Homo sapiens: one gene and its partner. The protein of the gene in region 2 purifies or fractionates together with the protein of the main gene of each other region. This does not show direct contact. Each region holds a gene or a part of one and is shown on either strand. Other genes may lie near its edges.

Region 1 (2,629 bases), on a different chromosome or scaffold from region 2:
AGATAACAGCTCCGATATCCACCTGCTTATGAAGCCTGAACCCTCATTATTCCTCACAGCAGAACCACAACCAATTCCTGCTGATTTTTCTTTCTAAACATTTAGTCTTTGACATTAAGGTATTATTTACATATAATGTAGTTTTTAAAGGACATTGCTCTATCCTTACTACTGTTGGTTTGGTTCGGTTCAGGCCCTAGTCCTTTCTTTCCTGGAGAGTTGCAGTAAACTCCTAGCTGGGTTTCTTCCTTAGATGTTTCCTCATCTATGCACTCTCTAGGATGGTCCTCTCAGGACTTACCTGTGACCACATTTGGAAAGAGCGTGAATCTCCCTGCCTTGTGCCATGCACTGTGGTAATAGTGAATTGCCATGGACATATCTATTTTACTGCCTGCTACTTCCTTAGACCAAATCTTTGAGTCAGGACCCTGGAACTGAGATGGGTATAGTGGGAAGCTTTTCTCTGAGTGATACCCTGTTGTGGGTGCTGAGCTTTTGGAGAAAGGGAGGGGTGCAGCAGCCTGAGGTTGTCTTGGCTTGCCTCTTCTGCTGTGGAGCCACCTTCCTCATGAGTTGGGGGTGAGGCTTATCAGGGCCCAAGTATTCTCAGTCCTCCACGCATAAGAAGGAACTTCTTTTCCAGGAGTGGGGGCTGGACAGGAGGGAGTCCCCAGGCTCTTCCCTGCTCTATCTCAGGACTTAGCTTCAGCACCAGGTAGTTGGGGTAGGATGAGAGGCGCTCTTTCTGGGAATAAAACCCTCCCACTGGGAGTTGCAGGGAGAGTGATCCTGTATTCTTGGCTGCAGCAGTCTGGAGTGGACCCTCCTTGCTTAGATGGGAGGGCACAGGAAGGGAGCAGTCCTGCTTCAGACACCACAGACTCTGGCCATTCCTACTGAGTTTTCATAGATGTTCTTGCCAAATTTTAGTTAAGGTTTATGAAAATAAATATGTAATTTTTCTTGCCCAAACTCAAGAATACCTGAACATCTTATATGTCGAGGTTAAGCACATTAATGTTAGTCTTCTTTCTACTGGTGTGAAGCAACAGCTAAAGATTGTGGTTTTTCTTAATAATAATAGTTTACTAGTTATATATTTCCAAAGCTCATCTTTTGATGTGAAAACTCACACTGGAATAACCTTTTTAAATATGGCATTAACTGAGTATATATAGTACCTGGGTTTATGTAGGTCATTATTAGCTAGGAAGTTTTTTCAATCCCTGAATGCTAATGAAAGTGGTTTGATGTTACAGGAGTACAAGCGCAAGCTAGCCAGAGTTTCCCTGGTGCGCAAAGAACTCAGGTCCCGGATCCAGAGCCTGCCAGACTTATCTCGATTGCCCAATGTCACTGGCAGCCACATGCACCTGCCCTTTGCGGGAGACATCTACAGTGAAGATTGATGGACCAGCCTCTTTCCAGGTCCCAGGACTTTGCAAGAGATGGAGACAGGTTAGGTGGATAGTCCTGTAGTGTTATTTTTGTATATTGTTGAGAAAGAAACACTAACAAAAGGAACAACGAGTAATTTATAAAATTGTTTAAAATGTTGGTTTGTTTACTATTTTATTGGTAAATTAACATGACTTAATTTGAACAAAGTGATGATTTGTGTGTATTAATAAGCTCACAAATAGTGATTATTTTCAAAAGATCTTTTTGTAAATTTTTTTTTTGATCCAAGGCCTTGTGAGAAATCTCTTGTTTGTATTTCTTCAGGTATTTTCAATTGTTTTTCTTTATTTTCTTCAGCATTTAATCACTGTATACTATGTAATTCCTGAAGGGGAAGAACTAATTAGGAGTTGATTGAGACTTTATTATGGTATAGTTAGGACTTGATTGTAGAAGGGACTAAATGTTCCAACATAATCTTTACCCTTCTCCCCAAACAAAATATCAATTCTGTGTCTCTACATGCCTTTGATTCCTTAGAGGTCGGTAATTTAACATAAAACAGGGATGTCACTTTGAGGGGCAGATGAAAGTCTAGAGAACTGTTCCTTAATAGCATTGTAAAAGTTCCATTCCAACTGCCAGTGTAGATTTTAAAAGTGTTAAATAGTGACTCCCTTGATTAAACTGTTTGTAATTATTTGAGTAGATTAATAATGAAAATACTTTGGAAATAATATACATTTTGACATTCTACCAAGAGGACAACTTTGGTTCTGGAACTGGTTTCTATTTGTCAAATCAGTTTCCTTTTAACATAATTAATCCCTTTAACAAAAAGCCGTCTATGGGATTAAAAGACACGTGAAATGATACTTTTATTATTCCCTTGCTCATATAACTTTAAAAATAATACTTTTAGCTCTAATAGCTCAAGAACACAATATTCGTTAATGTTCAGTAAAGTAGCCTGAGACATTTTCAATGTTTCCTTAAGGTTTTTGAATGACTGTATATTTGGCAGTTAAGCAGTGCCACACTACAGGGTAGATATGGTAAATTTTATATTTGTATATTTACAGTTACAAAACAAATGTACTTTTACCTTTTATTTCTGACCCTGTGTGTTAGAGCAGTTGCATGCTCTCCTGCTGTTAAAAACACATTGTTAAGCTGTGGATTTGTACTCAATAATGACTTAGGATAAACATTTATTTTCATTCAT
Region 2 (3,511 bases):
GGGCCCCTGTGCTTAGGAGGACCCAGGCTTGGTTTCAGGTTCTGTCGTCACCGTTCTAAAATTTGTAATAACTTTTGAATAAGGGGCCCAGTTTTTCATTTTGTACTGGGCCCCATAAATTATGTAGCCGACCCTGGACATAGGTGAGTGCCAAAAGGCAGGCTCCCCAGACTTCCTACGGGGAAGCTCACCCAAAGCCCCTACCTGGAAGGTGGCAGTGTGCAGGGCCTTGGGTGGCAGGCCACAGCCCTCAGCGTGGAAGCAGATCTCCAGGTTCTGGGGGAGATATCAGAGGTGACCCCAGGCACCCTCCCACCAGGGTTATCATTGCTGTGACCGGTTCTGTTACCTGCAGGGCAATCTTCAGCCTGTTGGAAGCCAGGGATGAGCTGCGCTGGGAGGCGGCCGCCTCCACCAGCACTGTGAGTGTGTGGGTCCAGAGCAGGGTCAGGAGGCTGGGGCGGGGCCGGAGGGATGCGGACACAGCACGGCAGGGCGGTGGCGGAGGAGGAAGCAAAGACGCTCTTGAGAAAGGGGCGGCCTCAGTGACCCAGCCCCACCCCAGCTCCTCCCACCCCCAACCTCCCCCTCCGCCTCCCACCCCAGGTGAGGCTGGGGAGAGGGTGGGTACAGGACCAGCAAGGGGCAGGTGGGATCAGTCCTATCCAACACACCTCTCAACCTCAGTGAGGAACCCTCCCCAGCACACTAACGGAATGCACAAACAAGGCTGGAGACAGGGAGGAGGCCAGGCCCCCAGTGACAACCATGATTTAAGACAGAACCAGGCCGGGCGTGGTGGCTCACGCCTGTAATCCCAGCACTTTGGGAGGTCGAGGTGGGTGGATCAGGAGGTCAAGAGATTGAGACCATCCTGGCCAACATGGTGAAACCCCGTCTCTACTAAAAATACAAAAATTAGCCAGGCATTGTGGCACGTGCCTGTAGTCCCAGCTACTTGGGAGGCTGAGGCAGGAGAATCGCTTGAACCCAGGAGGCGGAGGTTGCAGTGAGCCAAGATTGCACCACTGCACTCTGGCCTGGCAACAGAGCAAGACTCCATCTCAAAAAAACAATTAGCCAGGCATAATGGCATGCACCTGTAGTCCCAGTTACTCAGCAGGCTGAGGCAGGGAATCACTTGAACCCGGAGGCGGAGGTTGCAGTGAGCTGAGATCGCGCCACTGCACTCCAGCCTGGGCGACAGAGCGAGACTCCGTCTCAAAAAAATAAAAAATATATATACATGGTTTAAGAAATAAAAACGGCCGGGCTCCGAGGGGCCCTGGCTTATACCTCTGGGGGTGGAACAGAACTCTAGGAGGGCTGCGGCCTCTTCAGGGCCCAGATTCCACAGGGAGGTGGGGCGCTGTCATCATCATCGTCACTACCGCTAATAGTCACTGACCACTTCCTTTGTACTGACACCACGCTCAGCACCTCACATGACCCATTTAATCCTCAACAGAAGCCAGAACTACTCTCATCTGCACCGGGAACTTGCCCAAGGCTGCTAAGCAGTGATGAAGCCGGAGTCTGAACCCAGGTGGTCCAGAGCCCATGTGCTGGACTCCACCGCCTGTTGCCTGGCATGCTGGGTCCCTGCTATAAGACACCCTAGCTAGAAGTTCTCCCTGCACCGTGGGCAGGGACCACCTGTAACCTAATGGGGGCAGAGGAGCAGGCAGGGAGGCCCTGAAGACAGGCCTGGGACTAAAGGAGAAAGGACAGGTAGATTTTGGCTCAGCCTAAGGAAGAACTCAAAGCACTCAGAGCTAGGCAGCAGGAAATGGGGAGGCCTGAGAAGTGGCAAGCTCCCCGTCCCTGCAGCGAGCCTTAGCAGAGCCTGTTGCACCCATAAGGGAGGTCACCAAAGGGATTCACCTCCACCCCTCAGAACGGATGCTGAGGCCCAGGAAAGAGGGGCCGTGGGAGGAGAGGGGGAGGTGGCGAGCGCGCCCAGGGCAGGGGCTGCTACACCCCTCAGAACGGATGCTGGGGCCCAGGAAGGAGGGGCCGTGGGAGGAGAGGGGGAGGTGGCGAGCGCGCCCAGGGCAGGGGCTGCTACAGACCTGCTGAAGTTCTCCTGCACCAAGTTGGTGTTCATGTAGCAAAGCTCCACCTCCAGGAACTTCATCAGGGGCAGAATGGCCTGGGGAGGGAGATGGGGAGCAGGTGTGGCTCCGGCCCATGTTGGCCCCACCCCCATCCCCTTCCCCTGACCTGGAGGGAGGAAACAGGGCTGGGAACCGTTCTGTGAGAGCAGTTTGTAGTGTCTGTAAGAGGCCGGCCTGCCCACCTCTCTGCCTTCCCCTCTCCGTTGCTCAGCCTGTCCCAGCCACACTGGCCTCCTCTACAGCCCTGGAACCTTCCAGGCATGGTCCTGCCTCAGGGTCTCTGCCCTTGCCGTTCCCTCTGCCTGGAATGCTCCTCCCCTAGAACTTCTCATGCCTCCTCCCCTTGCTTCCCGTAGGTCTTCGCTCAGTTGTCACGGCCTTCCCTGGCCACCATCTAAAAATACAACCCTCTGACACTTCTCAGCCGCTTCTCTGTTTTAAATTTTCTCTGTAGACTTATCATTATCTAGCACACTGCATGTGTGTGCACGCGCATACACGCCTGTGCATAGAGTTAACAGCTATAACTATCACTATAGTTATGGATACTCACTATGTAGCTCTTTTTTCACCTCCACTACTAGAACGTGGGCTCCAGGAAAGCAGGTATTTTGTCATATTGTTCACTGACCTATCCCCAGTGCTTAAATCAATGCATAGGACAAAGTGGGGACCTAATAAATAGTTGGTGAATGAATGAATATCCTTCTACCCGCCAGTCGAAGGTGTGCATCATGATATGCCCCCACTTACAGGTCAGCTGGCTTGTGTGAACAGGACGGCAAAGCTAGGAGGCAGCTGAGAAGGATGTGCACCCTGGCCTGTTTGGCTGCAAAGTCTAAGCCGTCCCCAACTGCAGCCCCCTCATTGACTGTCAGTGCTGGGACAGCCAGTGGAGTGACCCAACCCGTTCCTGTGAGCATCCCAGGAGGAAACTGAGGCCCAGGGAGAGAACATGCTTTGCCTGGTCTGGGGGACTTATCTTTGACACCAAGGCCTTCAATGACCCCAGATCTACAGAGCTGGCAGGGTGGTGAAGGCCAGCAGGCAGAAGGGCCACTTACATCCTCAGGCAGGACAGACTCCCTGACGCCCACCAGTTTCTGGATGTGCTTGGCGATGCCCACCTCCAACTGGAGACACAAAACGGAAGAAGGAGGGAGGTCAGGGCATGAGTCGGGGATGGAAGAGTTCCTTAGGGCCTGAGTTTAGACGCACGAAGGGGTCAGGGTTGGACCTTGGCCCAGGTGCTGCTGGAGCCAGGTAGGCTGAAGACGGGATGGGATGGGGTGACTGTGCGGTCGGACAAGGTACCTGCTCGGCCAGGGTGCGGACGCCAGTGCGGATCTCATGGCCCAGCCCGGCCAGCGCGCTCTGCAGCTGGGCATGCAGCG

What was found.
Region 1: the proteins of UNC13D (region 2) and RPRD1A fractionate together in Homo sapiens (co-fractionation; one large-scale study listed by BioGRID). This does not show direct contact.

Annotation. Positions count from the first base shown.
Region 1 is NC_000018.10:35,991,934-35,994,562, reverse strand, and holds part of RPRD1A (regulation of nuclear pre-mRNA domain-containing protein 1A), read left to right. Parts: intron 1-1,262; coding exon 1,263-1,412; 3' UTR 1,413-2,629. UniProt on the Homo sapiens protein: Interacts with phosphorylated C-terminal heptapeptide repeat domain (CTD) of the largest RNA polymerase II subunit POLR2A, and participates in dephosphorylation of the CTD by RPAP2.
Region 2 is NC_000017.11:75,830,894-75,834,404, forward strand, and holds part of UNC13D (protein unc-13 homolog D), read right to left. Parts: coding exon 3,432-3,511; intron 3,251-3,431; coding exon 3,182-3,250; intron 2,153-3,181; coding exon 2,073-2,152; intron 456-2,072; coding exon 350-455; intron 277-349; coding exon 205-276; intron 1-204. UniProt on the Homo sapiens protein: Plays a role in cytotoxic granule exocytosis in lymphocytes. Required for both granule maturation and granule docking and priming at the immunologic synapse.